2 separate regions of the Homo sapiens genome follow, and region 1 is linked to region 2. A link means that fine-mapping ties the variant in region 2 to the expression of a gene that starts in the linked region. Tissue or cell type: whole blood. Region 2 holds a variant in brackets; the other region holds the start of a gene. All regions are shown on one strand. Distances are from middle to middle.

Region 1 (8,106 bases), 66 kb before region 2:
TCACCCAATTAAAATGGGGTTAATTCTTCCCTTCCTCTGGCAGGAACAGCACAGCAGGAGGAGTTTGATGTAGACTCAGGAGACAGTCTATTATCAGTTTTTTACTTATGCCTTTGCTGTCACTGTGTAAGAGGCAGAGGATTTTAGTTTTCTAACGTGGCATGGCTCAATATATCTGACTCCAGACCATTTGGGTTTGCTGGCTACTGGTAGAAGGGGAATCTTTTAATCACACTGTAATTTTTTCCTCTCTGCTACTACATAGGCCAGTTTCAACATTAGCATGGCTTTTTCTTTGGAACATTTATAAAAACTATAAGTAGACCAAACTCTCTAAAACCCTGACATTTGTCAATCAAGACCTCTCAAACTCCACCCTGGAAATGCTGGGGTCTGAGACCTCTCACTCAGTTTCCTGGCTACCATATCACAAGAATTTCCAGTTCTCTAGCCTGGCACAGAGGGATCTTTCCTACTTTCACCATTTCTCAACTCAGCCAATTTTACATTTAAGGATCTGCACTACAGCATCCCACTTCCAGCTATATAGAACTCTTTTGGCTGCAAGAGATAGAACTTAACCCAAAATAGCTTAAGCCCAGAAGGGAATGTTTTGGCTCATGTAACTAAAAAGTCTAAGGGTACCTTGGCTTCAGGCATGATCAAACAAGTCATAAAAATTTGCTTATGCATACATCCCTTCCCACACCCCTTTTCTCAGCTTTGTTTCCTTTAATAGCTTATCCCTCATACAACACTGAATTGGCTAATTGGCGGGTCTTGATCACTACCTGCCAATGAAGTGGAGGTGAAGATGGGCTCTGCCCTTCTCTAAACCACAAGACCTAAGGGTGGAAATGGGGTTTTTTCTCAAAGGTGCTGTTACCAAAAAAAGGGAAAGGGATGCTTGCTAGGTTAAGAAAAACAACAGAGGTCCATCCATTTTATACTTGAAAGCTTAAAAAAATGTAAGCAAATCTGTCCAGACTCAACTCTCTGAAAGATGAGGATGAGAATCATTATTTACTTTGCCTCAAAGTGGTGAAGAAGAAAAAGAAAAGGGCAAGGGTAAAATTTTTTTTAGTTTAAAGATGAAATGAAAATCCACAGGCTTGAAAGTTTGGACTTTCCTGAAGTTGTGGTGTGCCTTTCCAACCTATTGTCAACTTGGAAAAGACTTAATCTTCAACAGTGGAGGAAGCCTCCATTCTCTCCTTTCATTCACTTGTCTGTCACCTTCCCCTGAGGGCCTCAAGGGCAGGAGAGAGCATATGACAAGGAGGAAAGAAATGCCATTTCCTTCTGGTCTCAGACTCTGCGTATCTTAGCTGGGAATATGCAGTTTGGTCATTTCAATCTCAACATTTTCAACACTAAGTTGCAGGAATTAGTTAATTCAACAAGTATTTGTTGAATAAGAATCCCTTATCCTCTTTCGTTCCTCTTTGTTACCCTTTGTTTCTCTCCAAGACTTTTCTCATCAGCATTTAAACATCCTCAAGGCTCTCTCATCTTAAAAACCGAACAAATAAAACCCCTACAAACAGAAGAATGTCCTTTGATCCGACTTCCTTCTCAGCTACCACCCTGTTCAGAACCAAATTTCACATACTACATGTCTTCTTTACCGTCTGTATTTCCTCCCTCCCAAGCCTTCCTCTGGCCACTCCTGTCCACTCCTGCCACTCACTGGAACAGAAGGCTTATGGAAAGAGCCCCACTTTTACAGAACACGAACCCCAGTATAAGGCAGCATTATAGCCCTTAAACACTGTGAAGTAATTTTGTGACATCTGTCTTTTCAACTGGAGTGTGGGCTTCTTGGGGGTAAGACATAGCTGGTAGTTACTCAGTAAAATATCTTACTGTTGAATGTTACATGTCTACTCCAGACATGGAGACTAGCATGAATAAATGTTAAACAAAACTTTGTTGAAGTAACAAAATAACTGAGATTGGAAACAAAAGGATGGGACAGGTTTGGAATGGCGTGAAATAATGAGTGAAAGTTCAATTATTCTGAGCTCAAGTTAGAAGTGTAGGAGAAGGAGGAGAGTGTGTTGTATTAAAAGCAAGGCAAAAAATAGTTTCAATGGGCAATGTTATATGTTAAATGCTACAAGCAAGTATATCATGTTTTTCAGACTGAACACTATTAGAGGCTACTTGATTTGCAAAACAATAATCAATTCTTTGGGGTGGAGATGGGGAGATTAGTTTCACTGGAATGTTACCAGGTTGAGAATATGAAGGAGCAGTAATTTGTAGGGTCCAGAAAATGCAAGGATCACAGCACAATTAATTTAGGTGGACAGTCAACAGAGTGGGCATACAGCAGGACCTTTAGGGTGGGCATACAACAGGAACTTTTGGGAGGTGAACAGTCCTATCTGCATGCTTCTCATCAATTCTACATTTTAATCCAGGCCATCTTATCCGTGAGGTTAAGGATCTCTAGAGAAAGAGAACTCTAGCATAAACTTTACTTAAATGTAAGCTAAACCCTTCACCCAAATGTTTTAATCATATGGATTTAAAATGTGAAATGACAAGTGGAAGTGACACGTAATTATGACCTTATTTTTTGAAACAGAGTCTCAATCTGTCACCCAGGCTGGAGTGCAATCACGGTTCACTGCAGCCTCAAACTCCCAGTCTCAAACGACCCTTCCACTTAAACGACCGAGTAGCTGGGACTACAGGTACGCGCCACCACACCCGCTATTTATTTTATTTTACTTTTCGTAGAAACAGGGTCTCACTGTGTTGCCCAGGCTGGTCTTGAACTCCTGGGCTCAAGTGACCCTCCCACTTCGGCCTCCCAAAGTGCTGTGATTACAGGCATGAGCCACCAAGCCCAGAGACTTTTCTTTCTTTCTTTCTTTTTTTTTTTTGAGACGGAGTCTCACTTTGTTGCCCAGGCTGGAGTGCACTGACATGATCTCAGCTCACTGCAAGGTCTGCCTCCCAGGTTCATTCCAGTCTCCTGCCTCAGCCTCCCGAGTAGCTGGGACTACAGGTGCCCGCCACCACGCCCGGCTAATTTTTGGTGTTTTTTTTTTTAGTAGAGACGGGGTTTCACCGTATTAGCCAGGATGGTCTCCATCTCCTGACCTCGTAGTACGCCCGCCTCGGCCTCCCAAAGTGCTGGGATTACAGGCGTGAGCCACCGCGCCCGGCCTCCCAGAGACTTTTCTATCTGATTACTTTTCAAACACATTCTAGAGCATCCTAGAACTTGTCCTTTCCTAGTTCAGTTTATTACTTTCTGCTCATGCTCCAGGAGAGAATATAGCTTTTAGTCATTTAGTCTCTATGTGGTCCTTCCTTGATTTTCTAAGGGTCCTGAGTCTGTGGTCCCAGAAATAGACAAAAACATGTGCAGGGCATCATAGACTCTTGCTAGGCTGGAAGTAGAGTTCCTCTCTTGTAGCCAATGTCCTCTTCTCCTCACCCTTCCACTCCCGAAATACACACACTCAATATACAGTGGCCAGCACATCTGTTTTATGGGACCAAGAAGCTGAATCCTAAAGGTTAATGAAGGAAAGATACGCAGAAAGTCCAGCACTTTCCTAATTCAGCAGCACACAGGTTTTCACGTCTAATATTTAATTTACGTAATTTATTTTCAATCTCAATTTAATTGCTTTTCTTGAAAAGATGTTTGGGACAAGGTCAACAATGAGGGAGGAATGTCACCGGGTCGGGATCTGGAAACAATCAGCTCTGTATGGTTTTAAAGATGAAGCGCCAAGATCTTAAGGAACCTGAATTCCTGGTGAGCAATCAAGTTCTTTAATCGGCCCCCAGCAGGATGTCAACGGCGTAAAAGACAAAAAGAAAATCTATTTTAAAAGATAGATTTTGTGTTTTTAGATTAATTTTTAAAAAGCGAACCCACCACAAACTTCCCAGTTTTTAAAGAAAAGGCCTCTCCCACCGCAGAGCCCTCCCGAACCATGGGACAGCTCAGCGGCAGCGTCCCACCGGCTGCCCGCAACCGGTGCCGCGAGCTCGGAGTGCAGCGCTGGGATCTCGCGTGCTCCGGGACAGCGGGCTCCTTGAGCGCCGCGGGGCGGGGCGTGGGGCAAGACCCGCCGGCCGCTCCCTTCCCCACAGCGCTTAGAGAAGCAGCGAGCGCCTTTCCTCCTGTCCCGGAGTCCTAGCCTGGCCCGAGCTACCTCCAGGGCGCCCGCTGCTGCGGTGGCAGGAAGTCCCCGGGAACTACAAATCGAGGCATGCTGGGAACATTCTCCCGCTCCTCCCAGGAAATGTCCTTTGTCCAGCCCTACAGGAAGCCCCAGTGAGGAGTCAGCCGGGCAGCCAGCCAGCGAGCCAGCCAGCCAGCCAGCCAGCCAGCCAGCCAACCAGCCAGCCAGCGGGCCACCCAGCGGCCGCTGCAGCCGCCGCCGCCGCACAAGGGCAGACGCGCTGCGGTGCGGGGCTCGGGCCGGGGCGCTCGGTGCCCTAGCTCCTCGCCGCGCCAGCCGCCTCGCAGGTAGGAGCGTGGCTGTGGCTGGGCTCAACCGCCTCCCGGGGATGGGGCTGATCGGGACCAGACCCGACCGCTGCGGGGATGGGGTGTGTGTTCGAGTGCGGTGGCGGAACGGCTGGGCGAAGTTGTGCCTCGTAAAGTGGACCGTTGTCCGCTCCCCTGGGGCGCAGGGCCCCGGGCTTATGGGGTGCTCTCGCGCCCCCAAAGCCAGGACTGAGCTCCCTCAGGGGTATGTGGCGAGGGGCGGGGAGGAGGAGGCTGAGACTTGAGGGAGGAGACAGCGATGCAAGAGGGAATAGGACCGTCCCGCCGACCACCGAAGGGGGCATCAGAGACCCTCGGAGAAACCAAGCCCAGGGAGGAGCTTGGAAGGCAAGGAGAAGGTGAAGGGCTTTGTGTGCAGCTGTGGACCTTGACGGACTGCGCTCCCCTTGCCTTGTCTGTTCGTGCCTCCAGCCCCACTGGGGCTAAGGGAGGGTGGGGGGCTCCGAGAAGGGCAGGAGAGAGGCGGCAGGTCATCTTGGGTCCTAGTGAATGAAATGTGTGCCTCCCTTTTCCTCTCTTCTCCATTCTAGCCCACTCAAATGAGCGGCTTTGGGGCTGCCATCAGACCGGGCAAATGACACAATAAGGACGGGTGGGTGGAGAGATGGGCAGCAGCTCGCAGCCCAAGAGGGGTGGCCGTCTAGCCCCGGGAGGCATTCCAACCACACGTGTCCATGTAGGTAGGTGGTGGGGTGGTGGGCAAAGCTGGAACCTGCACCTCGCGGGGATGCCGAGGCTCAGGATTGTGCATGGAGGCACGGGTGAGGCGCGTGTTGGGAGGAGTGGGTGAGTAAAAGGTTGAGGGGGAGCAGCGACACAGAGGCGCTGAGTGTACCTTATGGCCAATGTACATTATGGCCATGCATCGGGAACTGACTACCACTTCCTCTGGGACTTTCCACGATTTTCCTTTTTCCTAACCGCCTCCCCCAACCGCCCCCGCCCTGCCTCCCCCACAGGAGTGAATCACCCACCCCTTACTACATGAACCCTGGGCTGAATTGAAGTTGGTGATGTATCCCTGTCCTTGTAGTGGGCATGTTTGTCCTTAACCTGTAGGATGACACCAATACTCCGCATCCCCTACTGCGTTACCCTCCTCCCTCAAGACTGAGCGTCTGGTAAATGCGGTTGGATAATGGCTAGCGAGTTAAATGTCTTTGAGTAGCTGTGGTGGATGAGTGGGCAACTTTGAATACAGTCCAAGTGTGACTGTTGTAACTGAACTCAGCATGCCTAAGGGGCCACACTCACTATCTCTCCTTTCTCCCCTCACCTGATTTTTTGTTGATGCCCCCAACTGTTTACCTTCTTCTCTCAACAAGCCAACATGTGGATATTATTTAATGTGGAATACGTTTGAGGAACCAAATGAACCTTTAAGAATGCCACTTATATGGCCAGGCAGGAGTATGCAAGGCTCATGGTCGAAAGAATGATGCTGTAGGACATGGAGAGAGCCCTGAGCCTGATATAAATGGCTTTCGAGGTGAAACAAAACATTTCTTCCTTAGCTTCTTTGGGAGAGATGAGGCATTTGAACTGAGATAAAGAATGGAATCGAGAAAAAAAACCGAGTTGTTTAGGATGAGGCCATGAGGATAATGAAGTGAAGGGAAGAGGCTCTGTGAATTTAGATGATTTCTAGTTAGAACATATTGGCCGTGTGTGTGTGTGTGTGTGTGTGTGTGTGTGTGTGTGTGTGTTGGAAGTGGGGGTTGTTGTTAAGGGAAAGTTGATGTCAAAAGTTCAGCCATGCCCAACAGAGAATAAGATGGCATCCTATTGAACAAGATCATAAATATGAAGTCAGGCTGCCCTTTACATTACACAAAGGAACACATAGATGGCTTTTCAGAACTACTGGGATAGAGGGGTAAATGGATGCTAGTCAGACAGAAGAACCGGCTGGATTGATGCGGCTGGATTGAAGTGGTAAATAGTGACCTCACATCAGCAGCATGACTAAGGCTCATGGAGTTGCATCACATTTCCTCTCCCTCCCCCACCAAAACTCTTTGAATTTCCTCAGAATCTACATTTTTTGCCTAATTACTAGTGTCCTGTGAAGGGAAGGAGAAAGGGTAAAGGTTGGTTGTAAGGATGATAAACTAAGGCAAGAAGGAGCTTGTCTGCTTATGTAGAAAGAAAAAAATAGCTACAGTGTCAGTAAGAGGTCTGGAGCTTGAACCTATGTCAGTACCATATGGGCTTTTCTTTGTATCTAAGATTCTACTTCTTTTTTCTTTTCTTTCACCTGCCCCTTAACAGGTTTCTCAGTACCACACACTATGTAGAGTTAATATAATCAACAAAAGTAACTCCTTACTTTGGGATTTAAAATTCTTCACAATTCAGTGCCTACCTACCCCTCTCCTTTACTGGACCTGTGCCACCCCAATTTACCTACCCATCCTTCGAGCAAATAGCTCCCCAGTCCTTGAAGATGCAACAGACATTCTTCTACCTCCGTGACTGTCCGGTTGAACCCCATGCTTGCTGGACATCCCTGTACCTGTCCCTAATTATTTTTGTACATATCCTGGCCCAGCTGATTAGCTCCCTTACAGAACTCTTCCCAAACTTTACAGTCAAAATTAATCTTACCCCTTGGTAATTTGTATTATTTCAATGACACCTGCTTTAGGTGTTAATATCTAACAAGTGCCCAAAGGATGTTTGATTTGAAAACATGAATAAATCAAAGAAGGAGTGAAAGGATAAAAAAAATCTTAATTATCTTGCCTTTTCTTTAGAAAATGGGATGGAGCCTTTCTCATAGACCTGTGATGATTCATTGCAATTGTGAAAATAAAGCACCTAGGACATGTCAGACTGAGGCTTTTCCTTTTGCTCCTGGGTTAAGAGACCCTAAAAGTACCTATCACAGTGTCTAGTACAAGGACATTCACAAAAAGTTTGTTGAATAAGTTATTTGCCAGCCTACATTTTAAACTCTCAGGCAGAATATGGAGTGGATTAATCCCAAGCAAATAATCAACAATTTTTGTCATTGTCCTAGACTGAAGAAGGTAACTGTTTCCATTCAATTATGAAGGTGCAAAGTGCTCATTGGAAAAGCAGCACTACGAAGACTGTCCTGCTATAGCCAGACATTTACCATGCCATTTTTATTTTTATAGCCCAAGCAATCTATGAGGATTAAAATGTAGCATATAGAAATAGAAAACAAATCAGACTTTCAAATTTTCCCCAAAGACACTACAATTTAGTAGTCCCTCACTTATCTCGAACTGGGCAATTTTTCATGCTTCTTTTTATGTGATTACAATAATAGTCGCCACTTATTGAACATCTGTATATCAGCTACTAAACTAGGTGATTTACATGTCTAATCTGATGACTTATTTAATCTGATGACTTACATATTGTTATCTCCATTCTAAAAATGAGGAAACTAGGGCTTGGAGAGAAGCTAAGAAGCTTGCCTGGAGTCCCAGATTCTGAACTGAGTGTAGACTGGAATTTACGTCTGCTGACTGTCAAGCCTGTTCAGAATTTGCTTTCCATGGGAGAAAACTGACAGTTCTTTATTCCTTCTT
Region 2 (8,106 bases):
AAGGGATGGGAGGTGGACAGGGGGGAACTTCATGTCAAGGCTTCACATGTTATGCTAGGGCAAGACGGTACATTCAACAAAGGCTCAGAGTTAAGCAGATTCTCTGCCAAGGACTTTGCAACTATAAGTCAGAGTTTCCACCACTGCTGCAAATCAGGCAATGTCGACTGTACCTGGCTTTGTTGGGTGAGGGAAGGGACAGTGTGTGACCTTGGAAAAGCTAATTCACTTTGTCAAGGGGCTGGAAAAGTATCTGGCTAGACATTTCTCTTGTTAGGGGTAGCATTAGTGAATGTCTGAAATGAGGGTCACCTCAAGGTTTCACCTGAAGCAGCTCTACTGCTTTCTGTGTTGAAGTTAATAGAGTAGGTAGAAATCACAGACATGACTTCACAGCCTGAGATTCACTGGACTGATACAGCCACTGTTCAATGCTGCTGCAGCCTAGACCAAGCCCTATAGGTATTCTTGATCTTGCTCTCATCTGTGCAGTGGAAAGATGCAGGTATGAGGTGTGGGAAAATCAAATCAAACAAAATGACAAACATGAAGGCTCTTGTAAGATTCACGGGCTTGTGTGAATGTTAGGAAGCAAGGTGGTTACAAGGTGGTCGTGCTCAGTGCTGCAGAGAAGGGGCTGCTGAGGGGCATCCTAAAGTCTTGTATCATAGCTCCTGGGATCCCAGAAGGAGGAGAGAGGCAGTTGCAGTGCATATGGACTCTGTCCTCTGGGATTTCCAGCTCCTAGGGCAGGGTGAAGAGGAAGTGAGAAGGCATGGCCTCCCTTTCCTGAGAACAGGAAGAAAGAAGGAACTAGTTCTGCTCCTCCTTTGAGGGTGTGCTGTGTGTGGAGTGAGCAGGGCAGAGCTTTGGCATTAACTGGCAGTGGACTTGAGCAAGGCATGACTTTTCTGGGTTTCTGATTCCTTTTCAGTAGGCACTGACTCTATTGGTCCTGCCCATTTTAATTTCTAGTGATTGTCTAAGAGTTTTAAAACCTTCTTGGGAAACATCTATAGCTTAATGCCAAAACAAAAGGCTGTATTTAAGTCAGCATTAAGTTCTGCAGTTCAGTGGTCATCAGATATCAGGGAAGGAGGGAATCGGTTCCTACTTGGCCCACTTCTTGATCCTTTACAACCCTATGAGAGGTATGACGCCCCTTTTCCAGTGAGGTGCCATGTGCCACTAGAGCCACGAATGACTGGGAAACCACTTTCTCAAATAGCTTTGGCTTCACACAAACAAATAAGCACAAGGAGGCTTATGTTATTACGAAGTTTAGTGGCAGAAGTGTGCAGGTGCCAGAGGATGCAAATCATCTTACACTTTTGCAGCCCAATGTCACTGGCAAAAGACCTTAGAAATGAGCCATAACCTTCATTTTGTAGGAAAGAAAACAGACCCAGGAAGGTGAAGAGATTTGCTTAACTTCGATGACAAAATTGAAATCAGAACCCAGGATTTTCACTCTTCACTCTTATTTGCAAAAATATTCTTCTTCTAAAACAAAAGAATACTCGCTTGTTTTTTGCCCTCCTTGACCCCTTTCCTTAGTCCCTCTCACCCCCAACTACTTTCATTTCTTTACCATGAAGCACCTGCCTGTCTCCATTTATGCAACATCCACGTCCACAAGCTGATGTTCAGATGAGAGGTTGGGTTATATAGGCAAGATAGATGGTTTAGACAGCAGACTTCTCATTAAACCTACCCTCTGCCCTGTTTCCAAATGTCTCTCATCCCAGTTTTTTTTCCCTTAATAAATATTTTACCTCAAAGGTAGCAAATCATTGGTCACCATTACAGACAGTTGTCTAAGTGAACGTTGGAAAGGTCATCTCACTTCCCAGGCCTCAGTTTTCTCATCAGTAAAATGAAAGCAGGAAAGGAACCCACAGTTAAAAGCTGGAGTAATGGTCTCTAGATCCCTCTTTAACTTCAATTTAATAAAAATTTTAGAGATGAAGTCTTGTCTGATGTTGAATTCCTGGATTCAAGTGATCTTTCCCCTCAGCCTCCCAGTAGCTGGGAATACAGGTGTGCCCTACCATGCCTGATGAAACTTTCTTTGCTCTAAAATCTGAACTCCACAAAGACATTGATCTGTCCTGTAGGAGTCAGGAAGCCTTTTCTATTTAACCATGCTAGGTCAGCAATAGGTGTTTTGCCTGCTGCTGAAAGAAGTTCTCTCAGTCAGGACTGCCTGTGTATTTTACAGGGATCAGTGCAAAATGAAATGTGGGGTCCCATGGCAGCCCCTTAAGCCAAGCACAGGCCCTGGGTGACCTCACCGGCCTTGTGCCCAGAGAGCTGCTCTGCTCAGAGCTACACCAGGGATTTGACAGACTCCAGCTAGTGCAGGAGGGAGTTAGTGCCAGGCTCATGAGAAGGGTATTCCTACTTTAGTGGCCAGCGTTCATGCTAAGATGACAATAGGCCCGGAACCCATATCACGCCCACCTCTCTGTCGCCAGTACCTGTTTTGGAAGAAGGGCTGACTGCATCAGTGCTGGTTCTTCCATTTCTTGAGGAAAGATTGCGCTCTTCAATAAGGAACTTCAGGTTTCCAGAACAGATTACTGACTGTTTTGGAGTCTGCAACTGACCTCAGTGCTCCCTGCCTTTGGGGACAGAGTGGCTAAGCCACTTTCTTTTCATCCAGCCTTCCCTCTCCACTTCCTCATAATGAACCTCTTTCATGCCTCAGATCACCGACTCCATTCCCTGCTCATTACCATTGGGTGGGATCTTGGGCCAAGATAAAGAAAAAGAACGCCCCTCAATTTTCCACCAGAGTCCCCTGATGTCTTAAGAAGCACATGTAGACAGAGAGGTTGCGTGGTCCTCACTTGAGTCAACTAAGAGTGGGAGATTCTCTTCTGAATTCATTTTTCAAAAGCAGTTTTTCCTTTTTTTTGTAGTATAAAAATGCTCTGGGCCTTGCACCATTTCAGGTTTTGGATCCAATTCCCAGTCCCTTTATAACCTTGGCAGCTGGGCTTCGCCTTCAACAGCCTTTCCCTTTCCCTGCTCATGGGCCTCTCACAACCCCACTCTCTCTTTCTATCACACAAATGAGTTCATTCTCAGCACCATACCCACTATGTGGCTTATCTCTTTTCCAGCTCTCATCATGATGATCGAGCTTCTTCAGGTTCATTGACACCCTGAAAATTTGTCTTTGAATTCTCTCTTGCTTTGTCATTGAAAGCATTGTGCTCCCTGACTCCCCATCCCCTCCTCTCTCCGTCCTAACATTTGAGTTTGTTGGTGTTTCATCTTTCTATCCGTGCATCCATCTATCTCTCCATCAGCCCATGTGTCTATTTTGTGTCAGTCACTGGGGACAGAGAGATGACATGGTGAGTTACTGTCCTCAGGACATGGCAGTGTAGGGGTGGGGGACAGGATATATAAATAAAAAATTAATGGCAGTGCAACTAGATATGCACAAAGCACAGAGGCTATAAAAGAGATGCTTTGGATGGTGAATAAGGAGCTGGGAAGGATGTGCTGGCAGGAGAGCTGGGCACCCTCTAAGCAGAAGGAATGCCGTGCACTGGCCTAGGTAGATGTAAAAGCATGCTGCAAGCAGGAAGCCCTGAGTTTTTGAAAATTGTTGAGGCACAAAGTAGGAGAATCTGGGAACAGGGCAGGGATTGGTGAGAATTAGTCTGGGGTGTTAGGCAGGGCCCAGGGCTTCAGAGGCCCTCTATGTTATGTTAAGGCTCTCAGGCTCCTCCTGACAGTCCTGGGGCTCCACCCAGTGGTTGGTTTTAAGGAAGGGCATGACGTGGTGAGACTAGTTTGGAGAGACAACTCTGGCAACACTGCTAAGGATAGGTTTCATGAGTGACTCTCCAAGACAGGGAGGCCTGTGGCAGGTACAAGTAGGAATGATGTTACCAGGGAGGAAGAGGACACATTCAAGAGGTGTTGTGGAGGTAAAGTTGGTAGCACTAAATGATAGGTGGGAAGAGTGGGGGGCTGCTGTCCAGGTTTCTGTCTTGAAAAAGTGGGTGCATGAGAGTTCTGTGCCCACACCCAGTCCTGTCTAAACTAGTGGCCATTCTGCCTCAGGCCTGCCTCATTTGCCCCTGTATTCCATTTTGTTACCAACACATAAATCAGGCCTTCATTTCTTACCTAGATCTTGAAGTATCCTCTTCATCTCTTTCAGTCCATCCTACGACATGCTGCCAAGGTAATCTTCCAGGGACAGCTGAACAATTCCCATTGCAGAGTGAATGACGTCCCAGCTTTTAGCATCACCATCAATATTCATTGCTGGAGGAGACATTCTTTTCCCATAGATTCCAATTTTTGAGAGAACATGAGGCATGTAGTATGTGTGAAGTAATTGAATGTCGTCGGGTTTTTTTGTTGTTTTTGTTTGTTTGTTTCTTTGTTTTACTTATTTATTTACTTATTTATCTTATTTTTTTGAGACAGAGTCCTGCTCTGTCTCCCAGGCTGGAGTACAATGGTGTGATCTCAGCTCACTGCAACCTCTGCCTCCTGAGTTCAAACAATTCTGCCTCAGCCTCCCAAGTAGCTGGGATTACAGGCACCAACATCATGCCCCCTAACTTTTTTGTATTTTTAGTGGAGACAGGCTTTTGCCATGTTGGCCAGGCTGGTCTCGAACTCCTGACCTCAGGTGATCCATCTACCTCAGCATTGCAAACTGCTAGGATTACAGGCGTGAGCCACCGTGCCCGGCCCAAGTCATCTTTAATGGG[GA/A]CACAGAACTCCTACTCTGAGGTCAATGAAGGAAGGAGGCAGGGTGTCTCCAGGGGTGGCCCCGGGTGATCCTGTGTGTGCCCATCATGTCTTTCCAGGTGTATCTTCCATTTCTCCCTGGCGTGGTGCTCTCTGGTCTGGTCTCATTGTTCCCTAAAAGTGACCCCTTTCCCACTTGGGTCTTTGCAGACTCCATTGTCTCCACCTGGAATACTTTCCCTCACATTCCTGTCTGTTGAAATCCTACCCATCTTCTGATATTTAGCCCAAATGCAAGGACCCCATGAATCCCCTATGGGAATGGATCTCCCGGAAGCATTTTCCTTTCTTATGGCACTCTTCACATTTACTGTGCACTGCACCTAACACGTCTCCTATTTTATCTCCCGCACTGGACCACTAGACTGGGAGCAGAAGTGGAAAATCAGAGGCCTTAATCCTGGGGCCAGGCTGTGAGTGTGTTTTCTTAGTTTGCATATTTGTTCCCCACCAAATTTAATTTATTAAAAAATTATAACCTATGTTAAACATACAGGAAAGCTGAGAGTATGATATAATAATGTATATTTGGGACTTATCGCCAAGAATGAATAGATTTGCTGCTGACACCTCACCACCCACTTTTTAAGATATAAATTATTGCACATACAGTTGGAACACTAGCCCACACATCCCTCTCCTGGAGCAGATCTTCACACTGCTTTTTCAAGTTTAGAGTTAGTCACTAATATTTGGAAATCATGGGATTTCACATCATAAGAGTTGGCCTCTTGTCACTTTCCTGCCAGTTCTCACCAGTCCATCACAGGCTCTGGGGCCCACCCTGGCCCTTGGAATCTGCCTATCTAGTCTGTGGCTTAGTCTGGCACCCGAGCTCTCTCATCTGCGCTCTGTACATGCTTTCCAGAAAGCAGAGGTCCTCCTCATGCCCCTCCATCCTCCTCTGCACCACTGCTCGGGCTGTGCCCATTGCTTGGACTGAGGAATTCAAGGCCTCATTCAAGCTCCACTGGCTCCTGTGGCTTTTCCCAGTGACTTCAGCTCAGCTTCATTCTCTGTACTCATATATACCTAGCCCTTAAGCCGGTGGCTGAGCACTTGCCTTTGCTTTCATTCATTCCTTTGTCAGGTACCCTGCAGAGCCACCCAGGTGGAGAAAAAGGACCCAAAAGTACCTTCCAGGTTAGGCTTCCTTGTTTTTCCCTCCAAGCCTTTCCGCCCCCGTATGGTGCATCCTGTGAGGTGCATCAGGGCTTGGTGCAGGAGCTCTGCCTGGCACCCTCAGTTGTAAGAAGGAATGGCACATTTTGTTGGCCGTAACACTCTGAGGCCTTTGTACCTCTTTAGTGAGATGGCTGACTGATCAGGCCTCCTCGCCTCTTTCGCTGATCACCCCTCACTGCCTGTTGGAGATATGTCCTCTTCCTTCCTTTGCCTGTGAAAACTGCCCTGGTGGTTTCGTAAGCGTAGGGTTTCACCAGGCTGAAAAACCAGGGGAAGGCGTCTTGTCTCTGATTCCACCACCTTCCTTTGGTTCCTATGGTATTTGGCATTAACATATGGATGTTGCGTTTGCCTTACAAGAGCTGGAGCGATGCTGGCTCTTGCATTTTGTGCAGTGGCTGGGGAAGGAGGGGTGTTGCATTTTTCTTTTTTCTTTTTTTTAATTTGTTAATTTTTTATTATACTTTAAGTGCTAGGGTACATGTGCACAACATGCAGGTTTGATACATAGGTATACATGTGCCACATTGGTTTGCTGCACCCATCAACTTGTCATTTACATTAGGTATTTCTCCTAATGCTATCTGTCCCCCAGACCCTCACCCCCAACAGGCCCCGGTGTGTGATATTCCCTGCCCTGTGTCCCTGTGTTCTCGTTCTTCAATTCCCACCTATGAGTGAGAACATGTAGTGTTTGGTTTTCTGTCCTTGTGATAGTTTGCTTAAAATGTTGGTTTCCACCTTCATCCATGTCCCTGCAAAAAAACATGAACTCATCCTTTTTTATGGCTGCATAGTGTTCCATGGTGTATATGTGCCACATTTTCTTAATCCAGTCTATCATTGACGGACATTTGGGTTGGTTCCAAGTCTTTGCTATTGTGAATAGTGCCTTAATAAACATACATGTGCATGTGTCTTTATAGTAGCATGATTTATAATCGTTTGGGTGTATACCCAGTAATGGGATTGCCAGGTCAAATGATATTTCTAGTTCTAGATCCTTGAGGAGTTGCCACACTGTCTTCCACAATGGTTGAACTAATTTACACTCCCACCAACAGTGTAAAAGCATTCCTATTTCTCCACATCCTCTCCAGCATCTGTTGTTTCCTGACTTTTTAATGATTGCCATTCTAACTGGCATGAGTGGTATCTCATTGTGGTTTGGATTTGCATTTCTCTGATGACCAGTGATGATGAGCATTTTTTCATATGTCTGTTGGCTGCATAAATGTCTTCTTTTGAGATGTATCTGTTCATATCCTTTGTCTACTTTTACATGAGGTGATTTGTTGTTTTCTTGTAAATTTGTTTAAGTTCTTTGTCGACTCTGGATATTAGTCCTTTGTCAGATGGGTAGATTGCAAAGATTTTCTCCCATTCTGTAGTTTGCCTGTTCACTCTGATGATAGTTTCTTTTGCTGTGCAGAAGCTCTTTAGTTTAATTAGATCTCATTTGTCAATTTTGGCTTTTGCTGCATTGCTTTTAGTGTTTTAGTCATGAAGTCTTTGCCCATGCCTATGTCCTGAATGGTATTGCCTAGGTTTTCTTCTAGGGTTTTTATGGTGTTAGGTCTTACATTTAAGTATTTAATCCATCTTCAGTTATTTTTCGTACATGGTGTAAGGAAAGGATCCAGTTTCAGCTTTCTACATATGGCTAGCCAGTTTTCCCAGCACCATTTGTTAAATAGGGAATCCTTTCCCCATTGCTTGTTTTTGTCCGGTTTGTCAAAGATCAGATGGTTGTAGATGTGTGGTGTTATTTCTGAGGTCTCTGTTCTGTTCCATTGGTCTGCATGTCTGTTTTGGTACAAGTACCATGCTGTTTTGGTTACTGTAGCCTTATAGTATAGTTTGAAGTCAGATAGCGTGATGCCTCCAGCTTTGTTCTTTTTGCTTAGGATTGTCTTGGCTATGTGGGCTCTTTTTTGGTTCCATATGAAATTTAAAGTATTTTTTTCCCAATTCTTTGAAGAAAGTCAGTGGTAGTTTGATGGGGATAGTATTGAATCTATAAATTACCTTGGGCAGTATAGCCATTTTCATGATATTGATTTTTCCTATCCATGAGCATGGAACATTCTTCCATTTGTTTGTGCCCTCTTTTATTTTGTTGAGCAGTGGTTTGTA

The links. PIP is the estimated chance that this variant, and not a neighbour inherited with it, causes the effect.
Region 1: it holds the start of ZNF697, and the variant in region 2 is fine-mapped to the expression of ZNF697 in whole blood (TOPMed, PIP 0.99).

What each region holds. Positions count from the first base shown.
Region 1 is chr1:119,644,466-119,652,571 of GRCh38, reverse strand. ZNF697 (zinc finger protein 697) reads left to right here and starts at 4,306. Exons shown (of 3, transcript NM_001080470.2): 1 at 4,306-4,881. It overlaps LOC124904389 (a long non-coding RNA gene), which reads right to left and starts at 4,256. Exons shown (of 2, transcript XR_007066506.1): 1 at 4,185-4,256; 2 at 3,596-3,848. RefSeq lists enhancers at 4,229-4,298, 3,470-4,310 and silencers at 4,369-4,428, 4,726-4,889.
Region 2 is chr1:119,578,662-119,586,767 of GRCh38, reverse strand. No RefSeq gene overlaps it. Among named protein-coding and RNA genes, the nearest start is that of LINC00622, 17 kb to the left of the region's middle. The variant GA/A (reference allele first, on the strand shown) is at 4,746.